Linked DNA regions of Homo sapiens: region 1 is linked to region 2. The links come from fine-mapping of genetic effects on gene expression. A gene starts in region 2. The other region holds a variant in brackets. All regions are shown on one strand. Distances are between the middles of the regions. Region 1 holds the start of LOC107984202 (a long non-coding RNA gene). Region 2 holds the start of PRKCQ (protein kinase C theta).

Region 1 (16,660 bases), 89 kb after region 2:
CTGTGATGCATGCATTTTCATTCATGCATTTTAATCTCTATATGTTTGGAAAATACAAGGATGATAAATCAGCCAGTTCTCATTTATTTAATTATCAAACTTTTTAAAACGCAGCTTCAAATGAAAAACACTCTGTTAATACTCTTGGCAAATGATACAACAGGGCTGCTGATCAGAAACTGCTCTGTGATCTTAGGGGGTTATGAGATCTCATCCATCTCTTAAATGCTGTTGGTGCTGATGTTGATGCCAACATTGAAATAAATCAGCGTGTGCTTTATTACAGGGGCCTGAACAAACAGGGCTACCAGTGCCGACGTAAGTAAGAGGGTTTTGGTTGCATTACCATCATTCTTTTTATTTAGTTATTCCTTAGGCTATGAAAATCTTAAGCTGTGATTTTTTTCTTCTTTTCAGAATGCAATGCAGCAATTCACAAGAAGTGTATTGATAAAGTTATAGCAAAGTGCACAGGATCAGCTATCAATAGCCGAGAAACCATGGTGAGTATTTACACTCCTCTTTGACGTGCAGTGATTTTTATCAGAACGTTAAATGTTACAGCCCACGAATTCTTCAGAATAATGCCAGAACTTGCATCCTCCCATTTATCAGTGAACATCCATCTCCCCAAAACTCTTTCCTCTTCAATAATGATTCTTACTGAATTACCCAAACCAGAGGATGAATTAGAAATTAGCCAGGCCTGGTGGCATAAGCCTGTAATCCCAGCTACTCAGGAGGTTGAGGCAGGAGAATCTCTTGAATTCGGGAGGCGGAGGTTGCAGTGAACCAGGACCATGCCACCGCACTCCAGTCTGGGCAACAGAGTGAGACTCCATCTCAAAAAGAAAAGAAAAAAAAAAAAGAAATCTGCACTTGTACCTCCTAAATATACACAAATTATATACAGGAAGAATTTTCATTGCTCTACTTTTCCAGAAAAATGGCATAGAAAGTGGCCAGAAAGCATAGTTTAGATTAATTATATGAGAATAATCCTTGTGGCACCCCCAGCTAGAAGTGACAGTAAAAGAGTAAATAAAGGCAAATGATGATAAGATACAGCAACATGGCATTTACAAGGTTAGAGATAATAACAGAGGCATAATTTTATGTTGAGAAGCAAATATTTCTTTTAGAGTAAACGTTGAGGTATAATCGGAAGACAAATTACATTTTACCTAATGGAGGGGGGAAACTGGGCTAGCACATGGGCAGTGTATCATTATGAATTTTAAATTTTTAAAAATTTATATGTATTTAGGAGGTACAAGTGCAGATTTCTTTTTTCAATTTTTTTTTTTTTTTTTTTTTTTTTGAGATGGAATCTTACTCTGTTTACCCAGGCTGGAGTGCAGTGGTGTCATCTTGGTTCACTGCAACTTCCACCTTCCAGGATCAAGAGATTCTCCTGCCTCAGCCTCCTGAGTAGCTGGGATTACGGGCATATGCCACCACGCCTGGCTAATTTTCGTATTTTTAGTAGAGATGCGGTTTCACCATGTTGGCCAGGCTGGTCTCAAACTCCTGACCTCAGGTGATTCACCTGTCTTGGCCTTCCAAAGTGCTGGGATTATAGGCATGAGCCACCACACCTGGCCTACAAGTACAGATTTCTTCTATGCCTATATTACCTGGTGGGGAAGTCTGGGCTTCTAGTGAACCCACCATCCGAAGAGTGAATATTACACCCAATAGGTAATTTTCAATCCTCCCTCCCTCCCATCCTGCCATCTGTAGTCTCCAATGTCTATTACTCCACTCTGTCACTCATTATGAAATCTTTTGACTTCCTTCTCCCACCGTTTCCTTTTTCATTCCACAAATCCTCACTGGGTATCTGATTCATGGAAGATACCGCATTCTTCCAATGACAGCATAACACAAAACAGACGTGGTCCTGCGAAGTTGGAGAAACAGATAATAAACAGCTATGTATGGCTTCGATTTATATTAAGTGCTACAAAGATAGTGAACAAGGTGCAAGGTGGAGAGTAAGCATGTGGCCTACTGAGACTCTGTGGTCCGGGAATCTCCCCAACGGAGGGAACATTGAAACTGACAGCTGAAGAGTGACAGAGCTGGTTAGGTGAAGAGCAGGAGGAAGGAAGCTCCTTACAGGCTGGAAGACCCTGCTGAGGGAGAGTCCAATGTGTTCCAGGAACTGAAATGGGACCAGTGTGGTGACAGCTGCAAGGGCTGCGCAGACTGGAAGCCCACACTGGGGAAGGCACCAAGGCCTGGGTCATGCGGGGTTTCTTTGGAGCCTGGAAAAATGATTGTATTTTGTGCAACTTGTAGTAGAAAGCCCACTTTGGGATGCTGTAGTAGAAATAGTGCGTTGAGATGTGAAAGTGAAACCAGAGGAGATGGAAGGAATCCTCCAAGCGGGGAGGTTGGTGGTTTATACCAGTGAGACGTCAGCAGAGGTGGAGCAAAGGGGCAGGTTCTCAGGTGATTTTGATGTTAGAAATGACTGGATTTGCCAAAAGATTAGATGAAAGAGGTGGATATAAGGATGATGCCGCAGGTTCTGGCTTCTGCCCGAGGCCGAGCAGTGTGGTAGATAACAGAGCCACGACGGAGTGAAGAAGACTGGAAGGAGAGATGAATTTTTCCAGTTTGGACATGTTGAGTCGGAGAGGTGGACATCCAAGTTGAAGCATCAAATAGACAATTTCACATGAGCTTGGAATTCCTCTGGGACAAGGGCCCAACCCTATAAATTTGACAGTGACCATCATATAGGTAGATTTTAAAGTTGCTGAAGAGATTGCCTAGTGAGGAAATAGAGAAAGTTCAGGACTGACTACAAAGGAATCTAAAATGAGATGTTAGGTAGAAGATAAAGGACAGAGATAGACATTGAGAAACTGGGCTCAGAGACCGCTCCTCCTACACCCAGAGTCTATGAAGTTACAGAAACCAGAAGAAGAAGAGGTGGGTTGTGTTCTGTGCAGTTGAGGTGTTGAAATTGAGGCCCACGTGCAGATCTTCACAGGCTTAAATCAGAGAAATGTCAGGGGCATCTTGGAGGCATTAGTCTGATTGACCTGCAGAAGGGTGACTGAGGTGATGACATGAAAACAACCTGTAAGTTGATATTATGAAGAAGGTGAACCATGAAGGAGATGATGGACAGAGAACAGTGGCTGGGAAATGAGACCCCAAGGATGGCAAGTGCTCCCGTGGCCAGGGAGAGATGGATAAAGCTGGAGAGACAGATAAACAAAACAGTCAAGTCTGTTGGCAGGAAGCGAAGAGGGCCTGAGCTCTGGTGGAGACTGGTCCCTGGAGCTTCCACAGTTTAACCGGAAGGGAGTAGGGCAAGACAGTTGCTGATGGGGATGGGTGTGGAGCTTTGGTGATGGGCACACAAAGGCGCTTCCCTTAGACTGCATGTGTCCCCCATGGAGTTTGATGGCTGGAGGAAGGAAAAGAGAAAGCAACAAGTGCCTTCGAGGAAAAAGGAAGATCTATGAGATAATTATCTTAGAGAAAGCAAGGTGACTCGTGAAAAGCAGTCAGACTGTGGAGCAGAGCTGAAAGTCCATTTGAATTTGACGGAGTCAGCCTGCTCAGGAGTATGATTTTCTCCAACAAAGGGGCAGGTTCAGAGAAGGCGAAGTGGCTGGGTTTTTCCAGAGTAGAATTTCTCCTAACATTTAGAAGCAGAAGGAGATAAACTTGTGCTAACCGGTGATTCTGCTAAGACTCAAAGAGGTTAAAGTAGTTTGTTCATGTTTGATCACCTGTACGTGGCAGAGCTGGTACTAAAATTAAGATCACAATCTCTCAGACCATGTTTTTGCTTGCTTAGATCAAATTTTCACCTCCCAGACTTCTTCCTTTACTTGATGCCTTCAGCTTTTCTAGAAAAAAACGCAAATCTCTGAATCACTGTTAACCTCAATGACTAACAAAGTTCCTGGTACAAAGTCTTGAGAAACTGTCAGCTACATAAATAAATGTCTGTGATATTATCTTCTCCCAGGATATTTTGATTTCTTGTTCACTCAAGGGGACATCATCTTTGGGATTCTTTTGTTCCTCTACCCCTGGAGCAGTATTGTCCGATAGAAATAAATAGAATGAGGGCTACATGTGTAATTTTACATTTCCAAGTAGCCCACATTAAATAAAGGAAAAAGCAATGGGTGAAATTAATTTTAATAATACATTTTATTTAATCCAATCTGTTCAAATATCATTTCAACAAAAAATCGACATTTGAAAAATTCAGATATCTTAAGTAATTTTATACAAAAGTCTTCAAACTCCAGGATGTATTATTTTACACGTCCAGCACATCTCAACTCTAACTCACCACCTTTCAAGTGTTCGCCAGCCCCATGTAGCTCATTGGTTTTCATACTGGAAAGCGTGTACATAGCGTCTTCATCAGCCATGGTGTCTTGAGCTGTTTGCCCCTGCATTCAAGATTCGAAGTGGTCCCCTTCCAGCCTGGACCTTGACCTATTAATTGTCCATATTTAAACTGTGGAATATAAGTGAGTCCCGAAAATTATTTTTTTCTTGGTTGAAAATGGCTGTAGTAAGTGCTGAGCAATTTTTAATCGATTCTACACAGGCTTTCTAAAGAACCAACGCTGACCAGTACCCCTGGCGGGAACGTTAGATCTATTGCTGTGCTGATGAATAAGGCATCTTTGCTATGCACCTTCCCAAAGGAACTGTTGAATTAGAAACTTCTGCAGAGATTATAAACCTTTAGAAAATAAAGCATTTTATCCTGCACAAGAATATTCACATTCTTACCAGGAATCCAACTATCCAAGTGTTTTGTTGTTCCTGCAATAAGTTTGATTTAAACTCTGGAAAACTGTTTTTTAAAAAAATTCCATGTCGATCACTAGCATCCCTCTCCCACTCCCCTCTCCCTACCCCGATAAGCCTTCACATTTATTTTGAGACAGAAAAGAGAATGGCTGGGCTCTGATTCTGACTGCCAAGCTTATAGATATCCCAGCTCTAGAGCTGCGTGTCCTGGGCAAGTTTCTTACCTTCTCTGTGCTTCATTTCCTCGTCTGTCAAAGGAGGATACTAATAGAAGCGACTTCAAAAGGGGTATTCTGAGGATTACGTGAGATATCACCTATGTAATAGATGATGCGTGTGACATATTTGTTAACCGCACCTGGCAGGAACTGCTCCCTCCTCTTGCCACCTCAGTTCATGAATAATAGGTGTGAAAATGCTTCTCACATTAGGCAGTAATACTGATAAACCCATAGAAATGTTTCCTTTAAAGAAGGCATTTTTTTTTTTTTTTTTTACATCTTCCAAAGGTTAAAAGCACTAGTTCTGGACTGAAAGAGAAAAGGAAATATTTATAGTAAAACAGGAAGGGAATCTTCATCTATTTAAATGGGAGCACTGTTTCCTTAGCACTTTTTAAAATAACCCTCATGCAGTCTTCCTGAGCTTTTAGCCTGTCTGTGTGAATGCCTCAGATTTCAGCTGTCTGCAAGGTTCTTGCTACATGCAGAAGGCAAGCATGCCCCGTCACGTACAGTTGCTGAGGCTGCCTGCCTTCTTCAGGCATGACTGTAGGGCTTGACAAGTGACAATGATGGTTTAAAATGCACACAATGCCAGTGTTTTCATTATGATCTCTGTTAGTTATGCTAAGGTATCTGCAAGAACATCCAAAGTCGGGGCCCCAGGAATACACAGATTTCACCTTCTGCCTTTCTTTCAGTTCCACAAGGAGAGATTCAAAATTGACATGCCACACAGATTTAAAGTCTACAATTACAAGAGCCCGACCTTCTGTGAACACTGTGGGACCCTGCTGTGGGGACTGGCACGGCAAGGACTCAAGTGTGATGGTGAGTCCAGTGGGGGATGAGCATGGCCCGACGTGGACCCCCTAGGGGATGGAGCAAGGCTTTCTGGGGAACTGGAGGGAGGATGTAGGGGGTACCACTTCCACACCCAGCCCAGACAAGTCATGATCATAAGTATGGTCTTCTGGGGCAATAAGCCACTATGTTCCTTTCCTTGCACCCTGCAACACCCCCACCCACACATCCCAGAAAAGAGCACAACAGTTCAGGTTCAAGGTCAAACTCCTAGCTCCATCACCTTCTGCCGTACCATAGCCCTGGGGGAAATGAAGACAGTGTTTCTCCTCTCACTGGTCTTTCTACTACTAGTTTCCTCAGTGGGCTCTGGGCTGCCCCTTCCTAATCCCAACAGGTCTAGCTGTGTGGTACCCTAACCCTTCTCCTTTGCACCAGCCAGTAAGATTCTTTCTGTCATCTCATCAAGGAGCAAGCCCAGCACATTCATTTGGCTGACACATGGTCCTGCACAGAAATTCTGTAACATTAGCTTGAGCATCCATCCCTAAACCATTGCTGTGAACTCCAAGTGCCCAGTAAGAGGCTGGCCCGGTTGTGACCGTCATTGCCTGTTTTCTGGTCTTTCCTCCAAGGCCAGGATCGCAGCAGAGCCTAACCTGCCATTCATTATTGATGGAGTTTCTCAGACCTACCATCAAAAAAGGAAACAAGGCAAGGCTTTCTTGCTGTACAACTCCAAGTTGCTAAGGCGATAACGTTTAGAAGCTGAGATGCTGTTACACTAGGATTAAGGACTAGGGAAGAAAAAAAAAAACCCTCAAGAACTGACAAGGCACTCTGCTTTCTGGTTGGGGAGAGACGTGGGCAGAGCCCAGAGAATAGAGCCACAAAAGGAGAACCACCTGTTGCATACAGACAGCTTCTGATTTTTTTCTTCTTCTTTTACTTTTTTTCTGAGACAGGGTCTCACTTTGTTGCCCAGACTGGAGACTGGTGTGCAGTGGCTCGATCACAGCTCACTGCAGACTTGACTTCTTGGACTCAAGCAATCCTCCCACCTCAGCCTCTCAAGTAGCTGGGACCATGGGCATGTGCTACCATGCCTGTTTTTGTTTTTTTTGTTTTTCTTTGTTTTTTTTTTTTTTTAGAGGTATGGTCTTGCTATGTTGCCCAGGCTGGTCTCAAACTCCTGGGTTCAAGCGATCTTGTCTCCTCAGCCTCCAAAAGTGCTAGGATTACAGGAGTGAGTCACCATGCCTGGTGAGCACAGACCTTTTCTTATGATGAAGTATTAAATATATAAGCCACTTTATTTTTTCTTGGCAGCCCTATTTTGATCAGTGCTACTGACTAATGTATGTCCTCTCTTTTGAGCAATGAGGTACGTGATGGAAGGCGGCACAGCATCTTCCGCATTCTCCCCTTCTTCATCCCAATCCTGTTCACATGTCTGGTGGAACCCAGAGCGACCTCTCAGTGGAGGCAGGAGGGGTTAGGTTTTCAAATCATTACCTAAAGCAGACATCACAGGAGGCCAACATTAGCCTCAAGAATCCGTTCCTGGCCCCAAAGGACACTGACACGCTTTTCTCTACACCCCTGTTCAAGAAGACATGGATAGGCAGGGTATTAAGAGTTCATTAGGAGGTCAGAGACAAAACGTAGTGTCCCGGCATCCTGCATCCTGACGGTATCCACAGAAACAGGAGAAATTCTCGCCTCTTGGTTCTCCTGTGATGGTCTCAGGTCGGGTTCTCTGTCCTGGGAGCCCGAGAATCCACTTGCAAGAAGAGCTGGTCCCAGCAGCGCCGCGGCACAGCTTAGAACTTCCCAGGGGTTCCTGGGCGTTATTTCATGGCTCTTCTGCCTGCTTCGTTTCATTTCTTTCCTTGAATACTCTTTCCTTTCCGCTCCATTCTGTTCCCCGCTCTCTCCTACCACCTACATTTCAAGTGCTCCCCTCCCCTTTTTCTTTTGTCCCCTCTCCTCTCCCTCCCCTGCCCTGGTTTGTTTTCCATTCTTGCTTCTGACACTCCCGGGTCCCTGCCCCTCCACTGTGCTCACCCCGCCTGCTCCGCTCACCCCGCATGCCCCCGCGTCCTCCTTTCTCGACTCTTCTCGCCCTCTTCTCCAGCTCTCTTCCCTCCCTCTCTGCCTCCCTTTCATCCTGCCTCCTTGCAGGCCGTCGTCTTAAGTAGGGCCTCCTTAGCCTTTTACCCTGCCTTCTCTTTCTCCCCACAATAATTCCCAAGAAAATAGTCATCCAAAGGGACTCTTTGCCCTCCAAGAAACTGAGTTACGGCCTGATAGGTTAGTAACAAAGACTTAGGACCTTCTCGTGGAGATGGTGGTGGCCTTTCTTCGCGGCCATGCAAGTCACAGAGAAGCCTAGATGTGGCTACAGTTTTAAGGAGCAAAGTAAAACTCCATCCCTCTATGTTCAATCCTAGCTGACAACCTCACTTGGTGTCA[C/G]GGTGATGCATAAGAAAATGGAGCTGGGGCTACCGAAGTTGAAACCTGACACCTTCTAAATAGGGCGAATGTGAGTTATGCGAGTTTTGCCGACAATGTGGAATTTGGAGCACAATCATGAAAAAAAAAAATCCTTTCTATAGTAAAGATTTTAGGCCGGGCACGGTAACAGACCTGTAATCCCAGCACTTTGGGAGGGCAATGCGGAAGGATGGCTTGAGCCCAGGAGTTTGAGACCAGCCTGGGCAACAAAGTGAGACCCCCATCTCTACGAAAAATAAAAAAATTAGTCGGGTGTAGTGGTGTGCACGCCTGTGGTCTCAGCTACACAAGAGGCTGAGGCAAGAGGATGGCTTGAACCCAGGGGTTTGAGGCTGCAGTGAGCTATGATTGCACCACTGCACTCCAGCCTGGGCAACAGAGCAAGACCCTGTCTCAAGAACAACAACACAACAACAAAGATTTTAAATATGCAGAAAAGATTTTGCTTCAGGTGAATTTTTCTGGCTATATCTATGCCTATATACTCGGTCTAGTAATGGTTAATAGTTGACCGGGCGCGGTGGCTCACACCTGTAATCTCAGCACTTTAGGAGACCGAGGTGGGCAGATCACTTGAGGTCAGAAGTTGGAGACCAGCCTGGCCAACATGGCGAAACCCTGTCTCTACTAAAAACAAAAATTAGCTGGGTGTGGTGATGGGCGCCTGTAATCCCAGCTACTCAGGAGGCTGAGGCAGGAGAATCTCTTGAATCCGGGAGGCCGAGGTTGCAGTGAGCCAAAATCGTGCCACTGCACTCCAGCCTGGGTGACACAGCGAGACTCCATGTCAAAAAAAAAAAAAAAAGTAATAGTTATTTACATAGAAAATTCTGCTTTATTTTATTATTGAGCTATTTGAAGAAGAGTGGACCAGTGAAAACTACAGGTGAGGGTTGCCCAAATTTCACCTAAATATTTTAATATCTACATCTATGCAATAAATGATGAAGATGAAAAGGAAGTTGTATTTGTTGAGCGCCTGCTCGATGCCAGTCATTGTGCTAAGCTTCTTTGCACACACATGTGCAAATCAGCAGATAAGATTAAGACTGCATGATGTCATAGCACCTGGTGCCTGCTTCTATTACAACACTCTCTACTCACAGACTCTGTCAGCTGGAGTTTGGAAATCTTTATATCTGATTTTTCTGTATTTTAATGGTGATGTTTCTTTTTTTTTTTTTTTTTGAGACACAGTCTCGCTCTGTCTCCCAGGCTGGAGTACAGTGGCACGATCTCAGCTCACTGCAACCTCCGCCTCCCAAGTTGAAGTGATTCTTCTGCCTCAGCCTCCTGAGTAGCTGGGATTACAGATGTGCACCACCACACCTGGCTAATTTTTATTGTTATTATTTTTAGTAGAGATGAGGTTTCACCATGTTGGCCAGGCTGCTCTCAAACTCCTGACCTCAGGTGATCTGCCCGCCTCGGCCTCCCAAAGTGCTGGGATTACAGGTGTGAGCCACCACGCCTGGCCTTTAATGGTGATGTTTCATTAGCAAAATTTGAATTTCTAAAACTAATAATTGTCTTTACACAGTCACATGGGCACACGCTCTCCAGTCCAAGAGGGATCTCTTGGTCACTGGCAATGGAAGTTAGATTCTATGCTACTGTTTTCAAGATTCATGAATCAGAATACTCACCCTGAATTGTAGGATCCCCAAGCTAGAATCCTGTATAGATCATGAGTCCAGTGCTGGAGATCCTTAATCGGGAGCCCCCAGAGCGTTCATGACTTGCCCAAGGTCACACAGTGTCCACGCTGTGCAAGCTGCCACCAGCACCCCGTTCTCCACCCACCTGACAGGTGCTCGAGTATTTCCCTCTCCTCTTTCTTTTTCTTTAACATCTTATGTGACTTATAAAGATGACAGAAAACTTTGGTTCTTTTTCTTCGAGTTACCTTTCATAACAGGTTGTAGATGTCAATTTACGCCATCAGTTCATGCGTGCAAGAAATATCACTTTCTTTATGACTGTGAGATCCACTTAGTTAACATTCTCATCTAGTAATCCTTGGGGCCCTCTACCCTTCCCATAATCACACGAGGTTTTCAGGAGGCATGGGTACAGGGGCCTGGAAACTGGGGAATGTGCTCAAACACCCGGTTGCTGTTGGCCTCCTCATCTAAGCCCACACTGGTGAAGCCTGTGGCTTTATGTTTCCACACCGTGTGTAGAGTTTGTGATTTTTTTTTCAAAGCTGAGGTCCTCATGCCTGGTCCAGTCTTGCTAGGTGTGTTCTGCCGTGACCTCTCCTGGCATTGCTAGCCTCCTCCTACTCCATCCCTTCCCACATATACACTCCGGCTCCACCGTCTGATATCCATCTGCAGGCTGAGGCTGCCTCCTGGGCTTCAACCTAAAGGCTGGGGGAAGCTCTTCATGGCCCAGGTGGGAAAGGGGATGTTTTGGACCCAGACTGGAGTGGGCAGGAATATTCTTCTGATGCAGGGCAGGTGAGCCCCAAAGTGGGGCTTAGCCCAGGAGAGTTCTTGGCTTCGCCCAGGAAGAATTCAAGGGTCGGCTGTTGGTAGAAGAAAACAGCTTCATTGGCCAACGGTATTACAGTTCTGTTGGTGTTACAGCTCCATGACTGCTCCTGCAGAGCAGGGCTACCCCAGAGGCAGAGAGTAGCAGCTCAGGGCAGTGCTGCAATCCTATTTATACCACTTTTAACTACATGCAAATTAAGTTCCTGGAAAAAGGGTGGTAACGTCTGGGTGTTGCCATGGCAACACTAAACTGACATGGCACGCAGGTGGGCATCTTCTGGAAAGCTGCTTCTGCCCTGTCCCTGTTTTAGCTAGTCTTCAATTTGGTCTGGCGTCTGAACCCCACCTCCAGAGTTGAGTCCCACCTCCTACCTCACTTCCCTTCCAGCACGAGGATCACTACCAGGGAGAGCCAGGGTCAACTTCCTCCCAGCCGTGGCACTTTAGGCTTTCCTCCCTATCCGCAAGGCTCTGTCTTACCTCCAGAGAGAGTTGTTTAGCACCAGGGGGTTCTTCCACTCTTGCTCACTATCTGCCTTCTTCCTTCCAGCATGTGGCATGAATGTGCATCATAGATGCCAGACAAAGGTGGCCAACCTTTGTGGCATAAACCAGAAGCTAATGGCTGAAGCGCTGGCCATGATTGAGAGCACTCAACAGGTAGGAGCATGTGCCGTGGACACGTTCCCGCCATGGCCGCTCAGCAAGGATGTCCATGCACTTCTGCTGCTTCACCTGTGGCAGCCCTATGGGAAATGCCGGGATGTATTTCTGAGCACCGGCCTTGCCCTTGGCTTTCATATCCATGCCCACACCCCCTATCTTTGAGATATTTATTTAATGCATTTGTATTATGCAGATCTTTATAAAATCTTAAATTCTTCATGGCATGAGCATTGCAGAAACAAATAAATTCATTAAAGTTATTGAAGATTCATTGACAGCTTTATGTGAATATATTCGGGTTATAGAATAGCCTGGGGGAAAACACTTATGTGCTAGCATCATCCTCATGGAACACCGAGTCCAGGGCAAATTTGGCCTGCTGTTTACTGTTTTGGCATTAGCTGAATTCCTAGATCCAAGGATAAACCCTCTTTAAGACTTGGCATTGCCTGTATCAGCTGTTTTCCCATCCATTAACTACCTGTCCTTATTTGTGATGGAATGATGTAGACAGCATGAGAGAATCCTGTCAGCCCCAGAAAAGTGTGAAGGAGGCAAACGTGTTCGGCTAATGCATAAAATACAGTAGATAGACTCTCCCAGAATATGGGGTTCCAAAAGAACGTTGAGGATAAGGAGATCTTTGTTGACCCTATGCATTTAAACATTTTAAATGGCCTTTGTCCCCATCGTTAGCAGGCTGAGCTGTTCCATCAATGGTGGGTGGGTGGGTGGTCTGACTCTCTGTTTGTCATCCAGGCTCGCTGCTTAAGAGATACTGAACAGATCTTCAGAGAAGGTCCGGTTGAAATTGGTCTCCCATGCTCCATCAAAAATGAAGCAAGGCCGCCATGTTTACCGACACCGGGAAAAAGAGGTAGCTGTCCTGATCAGCAGTCTAATCACTGTCAGTCATTAATCTCAATTAACCCTAACCTAATGCCCTTGGATTTAAGTTATCAGCTTACCTGGTCTGATAGGTGATCCACCTCCAGCTACCAACTAAGAGGCTCCCACTTCTTAGAAAAGAAACTAAAACCTTTTACCTTTGTAAAAGGCAGGAGGTGGGGGTTAGAAAATGGGATAGGTCTGGAGGGAACAACCACAAATGTTTTCTTAGAGTTTCAGCATGTTACATTCTGTCAGTGTCAAATGGTTTCACAGAAATAAATCTGTCTTAAAATTTGATGGTGGGAAGGCCACAGAAGACATTCTTACTCTGCACCTTTGAGACTTAAATTTAAGGGTAGGAAAGAGAAGGACTCAAAGCCACTTTCATGACATTATGGCAGTTTTTCCAGCCTACTGTTTGAAAGCAGTTCATGAGTGGATATGACCCATGTTTCTGAGACCTGAGTCGTTTCAGCATACATTCTAAAATACTTAGTGTCCTTGGAAGAGTATGAAAGATAAACCTAGGGATTTAAAAATATAGAGACTATTGTAGGCAGGGGGAAATTCCTAAAAATTTCTCTTATGTTTTCTCTGACTTCAAATCAACTTAAAAATGTAAATGAAAGGTTTGGGTTACATTTAGGAGGGGTTGCCAGGCAGTCAAGGAGACTATGTCTTAGCAATGATCAACATAGGCAGCATCTTTTTTTTTTCTTTTTTGAAGACAGAGTCTTGCTCTGTGGCCCAGGCTACAATGCAGTGGCACAATCTCAGCTCACTGTAACCTCTGCCCTGTGGGTTCAAGGGATTCTCCTGCCTCAGCTTCCCGAGTACCTGGGACTACTTGCGCACACAACCGCACCCAGCGAATTCTTTGTATTTTAGTAGAGATGGGGCTTCACCATGTCGCCCAGGCTGGCCTCAAATGCCTGAGCTCAGGCAATCCGCCCACCTCGGCCTCCCGAAGTTGTCAGATTACATGTGTGAGCCACCATACCCGGCCAACGTAGGCAGCATCTTGACTTGAATTCTGGGATGAATGATGCAGTTCAGATCTTTAAAAATCTGCTAGATTTCATTTCCTGTCTCTCTCACGCTGTAAATTGTAGAAATTGATGCCACTGTGTTTGTGAGCCATGCAAACAATTGAAAATCATTTTTTTCCTAAAATTTGGTTAAAATCCCTAGATGTCCTTGATGTGGCATTATTAACAGTGCTTGTGTATTTTGCATATATGGTCTTTTACTGATTGGAATTTGTTTCTTAAGTTGAACTATTTCCCAGTCTATTGAAGAAAGAGACATAGTCCACACTCCAAAATCCAAATGCCAGGCTCACAGACAGGGGGTGCTGCCCTCACAGACAGATGGAAAGGTATTAAAGCTGCCTGAACTGTAGGAAACCCTCTAAACACCCCCAATTACTATGATGGAGCCTCAGCATGGGAAGTAGAAGAGAAAGCATGTGCTCTCAGTAACTAGAATGACCTCCATTACTCCATGTTCATTTTTAACCACCAGCTTGCATTTTCAGAGCCTCAGGGCATTTCCTGGGAGTCTCCGTTGGATGAGGTGGATAAAATGTGCCATCTTCCAGAACCTGAACTGAACAAAGAAAGACCATCTCTGCAGATTAAACTAAAAATTGAGGATTTTATCTTGCACAAAATGTTGGGGAAAGGAAGTTTTGGCAAGGTAAGCTAATGCACGGGAGAATGCTATGGCCCAACTCCAGGAACTGATGAGCCAAGTTCCTGGTCAAAGAAATTAAACTCATAGGGCCACTAGGATTGCATGTGAGTGTCAGAGACAGCTTTCCTGAGGGAGCGCTGAATAAATAGGGACCCCGAGGGCTCTAGGCCCATAGTAGCCTCAGCTTTCTGGAAACCTGTGTCTCCAAAGCTACTTTGCTTGGAGAGTGTACATCTCACACGCCTATGAGTTTGATGTCTTTGGGCACCAAAGAAATAGGAAGGTGCCTCAGCCACTTCCTGTTTCACACGGTGTTTGTGTTTGTTTCATTTTGTTTTCTCTTCTTTTGCTTCATTCTCAAGCCTGGAGTGTTGTTTTAGTTTGCATGTGATTTTTTTCTCTCTCTATTAAATATCTTCCAGCTTGTATAAGTTTCCTTGGGGTGTGATAGGGCTCGGCTCTGTGTCCCCACCCAAATCTCACGTTGAATTGTAATAATCCCCAGGTGTCATGGGAGGGACCCAGTGGAAGGTGATTGAATCATGGGGATGGGTTTTTCTGTGCTGTTCCCATGATAGTGAGTAAGTCTCATGAGATCTGATGATTTTATAAAGAGGAGTTTCCCTACACATGCCCTCTCACCTGCCACCACGTAAGACGTCCCTTTGCTCTTCCTTTGTCTTCCACCATGATTGCGAGGCCTCCCCAGCTGTGTGGAACCGAGTCCATTAAACCTCTTTCCTTTATAAATTATCCAGTCTCGGGCATGTCTTTATTAGCAGTGTGATAACAGACTAATACAGGCTGCTATAACAAAATCTCACATACTGGCTGGCTTAAACAGCAGAAATTCATGTTCTCGCAGGTCTGGAGGATGGAAGTTCACCATCAAGGTGTTGTCTGGGTTGTTTCTTCCCAGGCCCCTCTCCATGCTTTGCAATGGTCGCCCTCTCTCCATGCCTTCATATCATCTTCCTCCTGTGCATGTCTGCATCCAAGTGTTCTCCTTTTTTGAGATGACGTCTCACTGTGTTGCCCAGGCTGGTCTTGACCTCCCGAACCCAAGTGATCCTCCTGTCTCAGCTCCCTAGTAGCTGGGATTACAGTTGTGCCACCACACTCTGCTTAAATTTTCTCTTCTTGTGAAAACACCAGTCATATTGGATTAGGACCTGCCTTAATAACCTCATCTAACCTTAATTACCTCTTTGAAGGTCCTGTCTCCAAATACAGTCACTTTCCAAGGTCCTGGGGATTGGAACTTCAGTATAGACACAATTCAGCCCATAAGAAAACTGTAGCTTGAGAGTCCTGGAAAAAAATTGTGGAGAAAGTCCCTCCTCTAAATTCTTCCTGCCATACATGCAGGTGGGGGGTTGTCTCCATCACTCACAGATGACAAGGAGAGGAAGGAAAGAGGGAGAGGAGGAGCAAAAAAAAAAAAAAGGGGAGGTGAGAAGAAGGAAGAAGAGATAATTTAAGAAATTATAACCAACTACCGGTGACTGCAGAAAATTTTCAAGCTGGTGATTTAAGGAGGGATGATATGGAATATAGGCTTTTAGGTAATTTTTGATATTAAGGGTATCTCATGTATTAACGGGGCTCCTATTTGTTTTACATTCTTGGATGGGACTCCCAGGAAAATTTTAATCAGAGATGACTGTTCTATGAATCTGTGCAGCCAAAGGCAGCATTATACACCACAACTGCTCACCAGACTTTGGCAGGATGTCTTACCCAGTTTATTTAATATTAAACAAACTAAAATGCAACTGAGCGGTCACCACAGCTGAATAATATTGAGCTCCATTTGGGGTTTGGATTTAAACACTGATGCCTTGCCTTTCAGCAGAATCGACTCTGTCCAGCACATGGTAGCTGATATTCAGGAATTCTTTTTGTTCAGTTCCACAATAATATGAACCACAGTAGGCTCATTTGGTGCTAATCTGAGCATAATAGGCAATGTTACAGCCAGTCTTCATTGTAATTTAGCAGCAATTAATGTGCAATTATAACCTGTTACCAAAAATTGAAAGCACATTATATAGATGGAAATTGTCTTTTTGGCTTCTTAGTTTATGGCTGGTTTTAGGGTGTTTTACTGAAAGAAGCAATTACTAAAAGAGGACTTTTAATTGTTAATGAAATGTTTATCTTTCTTTGTTCCCATGTGGATTTCCACATTTGAATAAGGTTAATAAGGAAGACATTAAGTTAAACCTACAAGCCTTAGTCGGTATCCCAAGGTGCAGCTGGGAGCCCCAGGTTTCCCCCACTCCATGTCCAAAGCTGTCTACTTCTTTTCATCAGGACCCTGGGTCCCTATACACGGAGAGGAGAGGAGGGGGAGATATCAAAGCAAGACAGGATGGCTGTTTCTCTTTCTCACAACACTGAGAATACTCCAAAACTTGTCTTTTCTCTCTCTTCTGGCTTTATGTGGAAAGTATGTTTCCTCACCAAGACCTCTATACCCTTGTTCTCAAACAAATTTTAAGCCTAAGAAAACAAATTGTGTGTTCTCTGGGGATGTGAGCATCATTCATTTGCCTGAATTCC
Region 2 (11,944 bases):
GATTGAAGAAGAGAAATGACAACATCTCCCTTTTACTTATCCAAGCTGTGAATTTAAAATACCTTTCGTTTTTGTTTGTTTGTGCCTATCAACTTTGACCCATAGCTCCCAGAATAATTTTGATATTTTCTGAATAAATTGACACTAGACTTTATACATCACTCATGTCTTTATTTAGGGTAGGCCACTGTCCTCTAATTCCATACTGATTCTTCTGGGTACTCTGGTGAGCCACTCAAAAAACAATTTCTGCCAAACCTTTGGGAAAGTATCAGTGGTTTGGTGGCCAAATTCCTCATCAAATAGTGCAAACTGGTTTCCTCCAAGCTGTGACTTCTGCAGAGACAGAAATGTCCTTGTTAAGTAACACTGTCCTCAAATTTTCTATGTGTATCATAGCCTACTTCCTCCTGAATACTACCTTTCTCCAAATCAAGACTCAAAATAATATGTTTTCTTTTTAATTTCTATCCTAAATCCCATATAGAAGGAAGGATGCAAGACGTGGTCTCCATGGGAGACAGAGTATAATCACCAACTAGGTCCAAAAGAAAAGCAAAGTCGTGTCCTGGGTTCCTTTTTCCAAGTTCCGAGTTGTGGGAAGATGGGTTGTGGCAGCTCCGGGAGCAGACACATAGGATTTCCTCCTTCCTCAGCTCTCAGGAGGGCCGCTGGATCCAAGGCAGGGGTCAGGTATTTCCGAGATGAAGTGAACTGAATAGGGCGGCTACCCGAAAGGCAGTCCTCAGCATTATTCCAGGAAACATCAGGGCAGAACCTGAAAGAGGAAAAGAAGTACACAGCTGAAAGTTAGGGTGTGTTTAACGTAGTGAGTGGAACCTCACCGCCCACGTGTCATCCCCTCCAGGAAATGCCATTTCCTCTTCCAGGAAACAAAGGTGTGGAGAACTTCTGAGAGCAGCCACGTTTATATAACTAAGAGACAGTGTCTAATAGAAAACAGAAACACCCCATGGCCTGGGAAAGGAGATGGCGGGTCTACAGGATGCTGGCATCAAGAATATCTAGAGGTGTCCACTACACCTAATGGATACCAAGAACAGATGTGAATTTTTTGTTTTAGATGAAATTTTACGATAAAAAAATCCCAATTTTGTAGATATATGATGGATGTTGTTTTAAAAGATCTGATCTTCAGGTTAACGGGTTTCCTGTTGTAGGACTATACGATTATAGGACAATTGAGTAGCCAAGAGTCCTCAAAGATCAGTTGTCCAAAAGAGAAAGAAAGAGAAAACTGAGTGTACGATGTAAGAATGGAGAATTGGCTGGGCGCAGTGGCTTATGCCTGTAATCCCAGCACTTTCGGAGGCTGAGGTGGGCGGATCACCTGATGTCAGGAGTTCGAGACCACCCTGGCCAACATGGTGAAACCCGTCTCTACTAACAATACAAAAATTAACTGAGCATGGTGGCAGGCACATGCCTGTAATCCCAGCTACTCAGGAGGCTGAGGCAGGAAGAATCACTTGAATCCAGAAGGCAGAGGTTGCAGTGAGCCAAGATTGTGCCACTGCACTCCAGCCTGGGTGACAGAACAAGACTCCATCTCAAAAAAAAAAAAAAAAAAGGAGAATTAATTATTCAGCAGCTCTTGAGATGGTGGCTCCAGCCTGACCTGGGTTTGAATCTTGGTTCTGGTACTTTAGTAATTGTGGGATCTTGAGCGAGGTACATAACCTTTCTAAGCCTTGTTAGTCTCTTCTGTTAAAGAGAGATGATAATGATGATGATACATATCACATCAGATTATGAATATTATATGAGTAGTGCGTCTAAAGTCATCACAGGCTGGGCATGGTGGCTCACCCCGATAATCCCAGCATTTTGGGAAGCTGAGGTAGGAGCATCACTTGAGCCCAGGAGTTTTAAACCAGCCTGGGCAACATAGTGAGACCCCGTCTCTACAAAAAAATCTTTTTAAATATTAGCTTGGTCATGGTGATGTGTGCCTGTAGTCCCAGCTATTTGGGAGGCTGAGGTGAGAGGATAACTTGAGTCCTGGGGGATCAAAACTGCAGTGAGCTATGATCACGCCGCTGCACTCCATCCTGGGCAACACAGCAAGACTCTGTCTCAAAAAGAAAAAAAAAAGTCCTTATCATACCTGGTGTATATATGAAACTTTTTCTAAAGCCACTAACTACTGATTAAATTAACAGGACATATGAGCTTCCTTTCAGTGCCTAATTGTCAATGAGAAACCCAGATATGGAGCGTGAGGAATCTACCATCTTCTAGGCACAGTAGCTGTTATCCGTTTGCCATTTCTTCTTTGCACTGTAACAGGATCCGCTGAAAAACAATTGGAGAAAGAGCCAGATGGATGGCAGTCTGAACTAGGGAAGCTTCTGTTTTGTAGTTTGCAGAAAGAATCTGCATGGGGATCACTGCTTAAGCTTTGCCTCTTTGTTTCCAGACACAGACGCACTTTCCTGCCTAATTTCCATAGCAAATACCCAATGAGCGCCTACTGTATGCCAGGTTCTGATGATGTCAGAGTGAGCCAGCACTTCCGAGGTACTGGCCACTCTCAAACCTCCTGGCTAGGATCTTCCAAGAGCTACAGCCTCTGGCCTGAGGGTCAGTCCAATGCTGTTAGATATTGACAAATGCGGGGCTAATTTTAATGGAATATAGTTTTATCCTTAAAAGGTGTGTGTGTTTTGGCTTTATTTGGGTTCATATAGATTAGGGGCATCATCATAACTCGCTTCCTAGTGCAGACCTGAGTGATTTAATCAAGTCTTGAAACACTTCGGGGCCTCAGTTTTTCATCTGCCTTCCCAACCTCTGAGGTTCTTTTTAGTTGACATCCTACATTCCCATGATCAGAAGGCTGCTAATTCAACTTTTGGCTTTTGTTAAACCTTTTTTTTTTTTGAGGCAGAGTTTTGCTGTCACCCAGACTGCAGTGCAGTGGTGAGATCTCAGCTCACTGCAACCTCCTCCTCCCAGGTTCAAACGATTCTCCTGCCTCAGCCTTCTGAGTAGCTGGGATTACTGGCACGTGCCACAACACCCAGCTAATTTTTGTATTTTTAGGAGAGACACGATTTTGCCATGTTGGCCAGGCTGGTCTCAAACTCCCAGCCTCAAGCGATCCACCCGCCTCAGCCTCCCAAAGTGCTGGCATTACAGGCATGAGCCACCGCACCTGGCCTGTTTTGTTTTGTTTTAATCGTTTTTAATGTCTCTCTCAAAACAAGAAAAGAAAAAAGGACAAAAAATTACTATTTTACTTCTCAGATTAATCTGATCTTAGTACACTACAGCAACAAAAGTCTTAATCAAGTACGTTTTAATTATTTGGTGTCATCATTGCAAGGAAACCATTCAGTAAGAATATTAGTAACCAGACATATAATTTTCTAACCTGAATGAGAAATTAGTTACATGGAGTATAGAAAAAGAAACCACCCCGTTTATCCTCCCTGTGACCATCATTAGTATTACCCGCAAGGCATAAAAAGTCCTAAAATGACACGCACGGCGGCAACATTACCTTTGCAGCTTCAAGCACAGTAAAGTTGAAAGCAGTCCCACCTTGGCAATTGTGTATAAAACGACAATGTGCAGATACAGGAAAAGTCCCAGGTCCGAAGCCACCTAGGAACGATGACCCCAGGACAGAAGTGTGCCCAAACAAATGCCTGGGGTAGGTCATTTTAAAAGGAACAATGTTTACAAGCCCTTTCTAGCGTGAAAAACAGAGAAAAGAGACCCAGCTCTTTCCACCCAATCTGCTGGAGCGCCGTTTCGTTTTCAGTTGGGCGAGAGGGAGACATGTGGCCTCTCGCCCCTTTTCCTGACTCTGAGAATGTGGCCGGAGCCGGGGCGCTCCTGCTCCGCCTCGCCGCCCTCCCGGGGCTGTCCTGGGCCCTCCGGCCGCCGCCTCCCGCTCCAGTTCGCAGCTGGGCGACAAGTGGCTGGTAAGGAGGCCAGGGGCGGGAGCCTGGGCGCGGGACCGGGGGCGCACGGCGGGGGACCGAGCGCGCGTCCCTGGCTAGAGGTGCCGGGTCCCGGGAGGCCGGGCTGGCGGGGAGGCTGGCGAGCGCCCCCTGGCGGGCACCGCCTTCTAGGCGCACCCGCAGTGCGCCGGGCCCGCCAGCCCCGCCAGCCCCGCCAGCCCCGCCAGCCCCGCCAGTCCCCGCGCAGTCCCCGCGCAGTCCCCGCGCAGTCCCAGCGCCACCGGGCAGCAGCGGCGCCGTGCTCGCTCCAGGTAGGGCCCCGCGCCCCGCGCCGCCGCCGGGAGGGAGCGGGCTGGAGGGGCCGAGACCCGTGGCGAGAAGGGCTACCCGGGCCCCTCGGAGAGCCTCCGGGAAGGGGTGAGGGCTGCCGGGTGAGCAGGCGGAGTAGGAAATGGAACCAAGCGGGCGCAAGAGCGCACCGGGAAGAATTTCCCCGCTGGGTTTCTGGGACGCAGGTCGCACGGGATGCGGGATGCTGGCGACCTTAGCCGGGTGGGGGCCGCCGGCCTGGGGGCGCTTCCTCCTTTCTTCTCCCTTTTCCTTCTCACCTGAACGAAAGGGGGCCTGCGGGGAGGGAAGAAGGTGGAAAGTTTTTGTATTCTTGGTAAAAAAAAAAAAAAAAAATGCGTGAGGAAACATGTTTTCTGGAGATGGTATCCTGTCCACAGGGGAGCATAACCCCTTTTCTGGGAATGTATTGGAGCACGGACGGGGGTGCCATTGCTCAGGCTTCTAAACAAGCCAAGTTTCTGGTCAAGGGCCTGGGGGAGGGGGAGGCAGGTCTTTGAAAGATACCAAAAAAAAAAAAAAAAGAAAAATCTGCGTGCTCATTCCTGTAGCCTCAAGTGAGGTTATTCCCCAGCTTTGAGGGCCAGGTTAACCAAGCAAAGTTTGTGCAATAAAGTATCTTTGTGGTATTGGATTTTCGAGAGCCACCGTTATCAATGGGAGAGTGACTGTTGAATGCTACAGGCGTGTGCACTCCCCCGTGGGCATGAAGAGAGGTCCACGGGCTGGCTGGATTGGGAGACTCCGGTCATTTCTGCAAGGAGAGCGCCACAGGACTGCCTTGTTCCCTGGGCTGTCCTGCCCCTGTGCGGGCTGGACGTGGTGCTATAAAAGATGATTCAGGAGTGGCACAGGCTGAGGGGGACTAGGCTGGAGAAGGTGGAGGGAAGAGGGAGCACTCCGTGCCCTCTTCCTGTCCATGGGAAATGAACCATCTGTGCCTGGTGTCCAAGTCCTTGACGTTCCAGTTGCCCTTTGAGAGCACACCTCAAGCCTGCTGAATTCTTTTAAGAACCACCTACAAGATCTGAGAAGTCCGCCCATGCTTTCTGTCAACTCCGGCCTCTTTGACCTTTTCTTTTGCCAAAGAAAATTCTAAACCACTGGGATTCGTGAGGCTCCGTGAGAGAGGCAAGAAGCCTGGAGGGTCCACTCCGTTGCTCTTTTCCCTTGGTTTGCTCCCTAGAAGCCATGGTCCCCACTGGGCCCTTCTTGCCCGAGGCTGTGTGATAGACAAGCCCTATTCCTAAGGTCCTGGGTCCCCCACCCCACCCCACACCCCGACCTTGTGAATCATCATCTTCATATTTTCCCTAACTTATCTTTGGTAACCCTTGTAAAATGGCAGGCTTACTGCGGATGCTTAATCTCTTTTAAAAGTGCTGTGTCTAGCGGGAAGAAGAGTGACATTTACTAATATGGTTGCAAATTACTTTTGAAGTTTATGCACAGCTGTTTAAAATCCCTCTGAGATCAGTGCCATTGTTTGATGCAGGTGCTTACCGCAGAAGGCTCTTGTTAGTCCCTTCCTCCTGCTGATTGAACATACATATATTTAAAGACGTGGCGTAGGGAGAGCTTCTAAAACCTGCAAAGCCAAAGCTGCACAGCTCCTGCAAGTTAGCGATCCACTCTAAGTTTTTCAGTTGTTGTTTCTGTCTTCTTGCCTCTCATGAACTTCTGTTTCTGATTTCAAGAGTAACCTGCTGGGCACCATCAGCCTTTGTTTCAGTGACCTGCGATTTTCTTCTACACTTTAAAAATGTCAATATCCAGGCAAGACTCTTGTCACCCACCATCCGCGTTGTCATGTTCATTTCCGCTACTGTCTTGTGCTGTGGTGCCTCGGGATGGCAACTGTTACTTGAGGAGCTAACTTCTACCTCTGTTCTCCTACAGACATGTCCTCATTGCGTCTTCGCTCACCATACACGGTGCAGCTCCTGGAAATTTGATTTGTTTTGCTGTCTCACTTCTCCTTCAGGCAACAAGGGGATGGTGTTCGATTATTCACACCTCAGCTCCTTCTGTAATCTCAAAGATCCCTTTCAACAATAATACTCTCTGTCTCTTGTTAACGCCAGGCATCAGAAGCCCCCTTACATAGCCGGCTTGTCACTGGTCATTTCTATAAAGTATTCTCATTCTAACACATGCTGTCTCTTCCGTGGAAAAGACTAAATTCTTCTCTGCAATGAATTAGATGTTTTAACCAAAATTCCATGTGGACTGGGTCCAGAATTTTCTTTCAAGAGTATGGGCTTGTGGTACAAGTATGTAACTTCGGGGATTCAGAAGTAGACCTACACAGACAAATCTCCTTATAACGTGTTATTTAATTATGGTATATTTGCCTTTCTGGAAATTAGGAATTAGAGTTAGTACTTCCTGTTTTTAATGCATTTGATTGATGTCTTAGAGTTGCTGATTATGTTGTTGCCCCTAAAAATGTTGCTAATGTGCTGGTTTGTTAACAAGGTTATATTTGATTTCAGGTGATTTCCTTTTTATGGAGTTCAGTCTTTAATTTTTTTCAATAATTTGCCTCAAATCATTTAAAATGATATATTGTTATATAATGAAAATCCCAGCAATATAGACGTGATTCCGTGTGTGTGTGTATGTGTGTGTGTAATCTGTAATTTAAAATAGAGAAATTAGTATTGTGACGGCATACATAGCATTAAACTCATGCTTGCTGTTTCTGTTGTTTTAACACTTTAAGCAGCTCATTTCTAAGCAGCTATGTGTTCAGCTCAGCTTTTTCATACCTATTCCAATTGTTAAGGAAGAAGTCATGAGAAACTATAGAAAAATGTGATGTTGAACCAGAGAGATGGATTAAAAGCTGTTTCCTTACAATGGTGAAAATATCTTTCATTATTTTAACATGCCAAGCATTTATACATGTCAAATTCTGATTGCTCTGTCATCTAAACACATTCTTGGGGACAAAATGAGCATCAGAGTTTTAAAATTAGGAAAGCTCACTCAAGCCCAGAATCATAGATTTTTGCTCCTGGATTAAATTAGCAAGTATTTGGCAGGACATCTTTCTGCAGGTTGCTGTAGGTTGATGTTAGCTTTTGAATTAAGCTAATAGTATTAATTATAATAATAATAATCAGCATCAACAAAACCAATGAAATATGGTTTTGAGTCTTTATTATTTAGAATTTATGTGCTGTATATCATACTCAGAATTTTATTTATATGTAAGAGGCATTACTGCTTCATTTAACCTCCAAAAGCCTTTATAAATTAGATATTATTATTATTCCAGTTTTTCAGATGAGGAAACTGAGGCTCAAGGGGTAGAGCCCCTTGTCCAGGTCTTATAACCAGTCAGTGGTAGAGTCAGGTTAGTTGGACCATCCAGATTAGTCTAACCATCAAGCATTTGCTTTAAACCGCAGTCCCAGGTGACCTACCAGTTAACTTTTTTATTGTGGTTAAAATACACATAACTTAAAATTTAACTTCTTAACTATTTTCTAGCGTACAGTTCAGTGACATTAAGTATATTCACATTGTTTTGCAACCATTGCCATCATCCATCCACAGGATTCTTCTCATCTCCTAAAACTGAAACTCTGTCCTCGTGGAACATTCGTTCCTCATCCGTCTTTCCTCTCAGCCCCTGGCAGCCACCCTTCTACTTCCTGTCTCTAAGATTCTGACTGCTCTAGGGACCTCACAGAAGCAGAATACAGTATCCATCCTTTTGTAACTGTCTTATTTCACTTAGCATAGTGTTCTCAAGCTGTATCCATGTGACAGCATTGGACAGGACTTCCTTCCTTTTTAAGTCTGAATACTATTCCATTTATGGATATACCACATTTTGCTTATCCTTGTATCTGTTGATGGTTGCTTCTATCTTTTGATTATTGTGAATAATGCTGCCGTGAAGAGGAACACGCAGATATCTGTTTGAGGTCCTGCTTTCAATTCTTTGGGGTATGTACCCAGCAGTAGAATTGTGGGGTCGTAGGGTAATTCTATGTTTAATTTTTTGAGGAACTGCCATATTGTTTTCCACAGTGGCTGGACCGTTTTACATTCCCACCAGTGGTAGAAAGGGTCCCAATTATTCCACATTCTCAGCAACGCTGTCTTTTGTTTTGTGTTTTTTGAGATGGAGTCTCGCTGTGTCGCCAGGCTGGAGTGCAGTGGCATGATCTCAGCTCACTGCAACCTCTACCTCCCAGGTTCAAGCAATTCTCCTGCCTCAGCCTCCTGAGTAGCTGGGACTATAGGCACGCGCTGCCACACCCAGCTAACTTTTGTATTTTTAGTAGAGATGGGGTTTCACCATGTTGGCCAAGATGGTCTCGATCTCTTGACCTCATGATCCACCCACCTTGGCCTCCCAAAGTGCTGAGATTACAGGCGTGAGCCACCGCACCTGGGCTTTTTTAAAAATCTTCTTTATAGTAGCCTTTCTAATTGGTGTAAGGTGCTGATAGTTAACTTTTTACCCAATCATTGAATGCCCAATGGCAGGGATCTCTGGGCTGATGCTACTCCTGAGTTCATTGTTTATTTCCTATCCCAGCTTGAGCATATACACCTTTTTCTAGTGTAGAATTAATGGAGGAAATACAACTCACACAGCACCTGAGGGACTAGGGAAGCCATGGAAAGGACAGTCCCTAAAACATAAACAGAATGTCCCGGTAGGTAGGGTTATCTCCACCTCCATGAGGAACCTTATGATTCAGAAATGAGTAGTTGTTGAGAATAAAGTGAACATGGCATCAGTGTTAATAACCCTGAATGTGTGGGACAGATGCTTTTTAGAAGATTAGTTACAGATATAATTATCTTTTGTATGTTATCAGAGCAGGACAAGTTCCCAGGACAATGGAGAGAATGGAAAGGGAAACTGCTATTGAATTCACCAGGCCTTTGTTGCAAGCCTCAGATCACACACCGTGCTGCAAAACCCACAGGGAGATGTGGTCAGGCAAATAGGAAATTATAATGAATTGTGATGAATTCATGAGATATTTGTACTATTTTGTATCAGTTTATAATGTCATGCAACTCTGTTTTATATTTGCTAGTTTCCTTTCTGTCTCTTTTTTCCTCTAGCATGAAACTCCATGAGGGCTGGCATTTTGTCCCTACATGTGTCCCCAGCCACTCTAACAGGGCCTGACACATACCAAGTTGTGAACAAATATGTGCAGAATGATTGTGTGTTTCAGTAGGGGACACACTTGGTATTATGTGCACAGCTAGATTTGGGGTGTCGCAGAGCTGTCAGTGACGGCTCAACTGAGACCTGAAGGGGAAGTGGCAGTGAGCCAGATGGGGGTTCTGGGAGGTAGGAACAGTGTTTGTAGAATGTCCCTGCAGCATGTGAGTCTGGAATCCCAGTGCAGTCCAGTCTAAGCCTTGCAGATGAGTGGAAATGAGCAGAGTAAGCATCACAGCTTCCATTTAAACCTCTGCTCCCCATCCTAATTTGCCATATGACCTTAACCAGTGAACTTCTTGGAGTGTCATTCTCTCCATTTGCAAAGTGAAGAAAATTGTGATCTCTGATAGCAGTGATGCTGCGAGAAAGGAGCATGTGCCAGTGTGTGGGCTATTGCTGGGTGGAGCTGGAGGAGTCAGCTGTGCCAGATCACATAGGACCTGTAAGCAGGTGAACCATATACGTTATCCTCCAGATGGGGACTGTTTATAGAGTGAAAGAGCACGTTATTAATCACTAAGCTTGGGTAACAGGTACAAACCCAGATTGTCCTGGGCAGACTGTCCCGTAGAGTTGTCCTGCGTTAAGTCATACGAAGGAGTTTGATCCTTTTCTAAGAACAGGAGGAACCCTTTAAATGCTTTATCTACCAATGTATACAAGTGCCATTCAGGTTCTCTCCAGCGTTTCAGAGAGTTTTACCTGCCCATGAACTCACAGCACTCGGCTTGCACTGCAAACTCACCTATACGTTGGCAGCTGTCTCCTCACTGGGCACTTAATTCATGAACAACTAGGAGGGAAAGACAACAAGACAGCCAGGGGTCTGCTCTTTGGCTCTTTGCATTTTTTTTTACGGGGTCTTGCTCTGTCGCCCAGGCTGGAGTGCAGTGGCACGATCTCAGCTCACAGCAGCCTCCGCCTCTGAGGCTCAAGGGATCCTCCGGCCTCAGCCTCCTGAGTAGCTGGGACTACAGTTGCATGCCACCATGGCCTGGCTAGTTTGTGCACTTTGTAGAGATGGTGTTTTGTCATGTTGCCCAGGCTAGTCTCTAACTCCTGGGCTCAAGTGATCTGCCCGCCTTGGCCTCCCAGAGTGCTGAGATTAAAGACATGAGCCACCACACCTGGCCTAGCTCTTTTCGCCTTTAACTGGAGTGTTAGCTGATATCAAGAACACATCTTTTGGGTTTTTCTTTTTTTAACCTTGTAACACCTAAAGGACTGCGGCTAAGTGTTAAAAGAAAAAAATTTCTATCTGGTGGTTTAAATATCTGCAGAAGCAGAATCCTTGTCATCCTGAAATTTTTTCCCTGTGGGCAAGAATTCCTAATAAGCGTACAATCTATTGGAAAAATCAAAAAGTAAACAAACTATGGCAATATATTCTAACATGTATTGACTTGTCACTATCGGCCGTTTGCTGTGCTAAGCACTATATGTAGATGATTGCTTGGGTGCTTTGAGAACATGTAGAAGGGAACCAAGTCCTGATTCGGAGGTTCAGGAAAGGCTTTCAGAGGACAAGGTATCGCGGGTGGGGATGGAAGATGTATGGGAATTAGCCAAAAGGACAGGGGTTCAGAGGTGAGCCAAGTCTGTCCTGAAAGTAAGCAGAAATGTTGTTGTTCTTGTCGTTTTGAGAGAAGTTCATCTCAGCTGTGTTCAGCATTTTTAGGGCATAAGCTTCAACATTTTCCGTTCTGTTTTCACTGATATGTTTTAGCTATACAAAAGCAGGCCTTCTACACAGTTTTTCAAACTCCAAGACACAGTCTACTAGTGGGCAATGACATTAATTTTGGGGGTGATAACAAGCATGAAATAGAATAAAACAGAAAATATTAAGATGCATTTCATGTAGGAAGGGTAATTATTTCATGAAACTGTATCATTTGGTTTGGGACACATTAAATCTGTTCGTACCTAAAAGAAGACATTCATGCAGCCAACAAACATGGAAAAAAAACCCTCAATATCACTGATCATTAGAGAAATGCAAATCAAAACCACAATCAGTTACCATCTCCTGCAAGTCAGAATGGTGATTATTAAAAAATCAAGAAACAACAGGTGCTGGCAAAGTTGCAGAGAAATAGGAACGCTTTTACACTCTTGGTGGTGGGAATGTAAATTAGTCCAACCATTGTGGAAGATGGTGTGGCAATTCCTCAAAGATCTAGAACCAGAAATACCGTTTGACTCAGCACTCCTGTTACTGGGCATATATCCAAAGGAATATAAACCATTCTGTTATAAAGATACATGCACACGTATGTTCATTACAGCACTATTCACAATAGCAAAGACATGGCATCAACCCAAATGCCCACCAATGGTAGTCTGGATTAAGAAAATGTACATACACACCATAGAATACTATGTAGCCATAAAAAGGAATGAGATCCCTGTCCTTTGCAGGGACATGGATAGAGCTGGAAGCCATCATCCTCAGCAA

What was found. PIP is the estimated chance that this variant, and not a neighbour inherited with it, causes the effect.
Region 1: its variant is fine-mapped to the expression of PRKCQ in whole blood (TOPMed, PIP 0.97).

What each region holds. Positions count from the first base shown.
Region 1 is chr10:6,480,878-6,497,537 of GRCh38, reverse strand. PRKCQ (protein kinase C theta) reads left to right here. Exons shown (of 18, transcript NM_006257.5): 6 at 287-318; 7 at 418-503; 8 at 5,726-5,855; 9 at 11,394-11,503; 10 at 12,269-12,386; 11 at 13,938-14,098. LOC107984202 (a long non-coding RNA gene) reads right to left here and starts at 5,069. Exons shown (of 2, transcript XR_001747350.2): 1 at 5,028-5,069; 2 at 4,162-4,479. The variant C/G (reference allele first, on the strand shown) is at 8,304.
Region 2 is chr10:6,572,510-6,584,453 of GRCh38, reverse strand. It overlaps PRKCQ (protein kinase C theta), which reads left to right and starts at 4,178. Exons shown (of 18, transcript NM_006257.5): 1 at 4,178-4,243. PRKCQ-AS1 (PRKCQ antisense RNA 1) reads right to left here and starts at 4,029. Exons shown (of 2, transcript NR_036503.1): 1 at 3,527-4,029; 2 at 1-778. RefSeq lists an enhancer at 673-967 and silencers at 3,767-3,916, 3,927-4,176.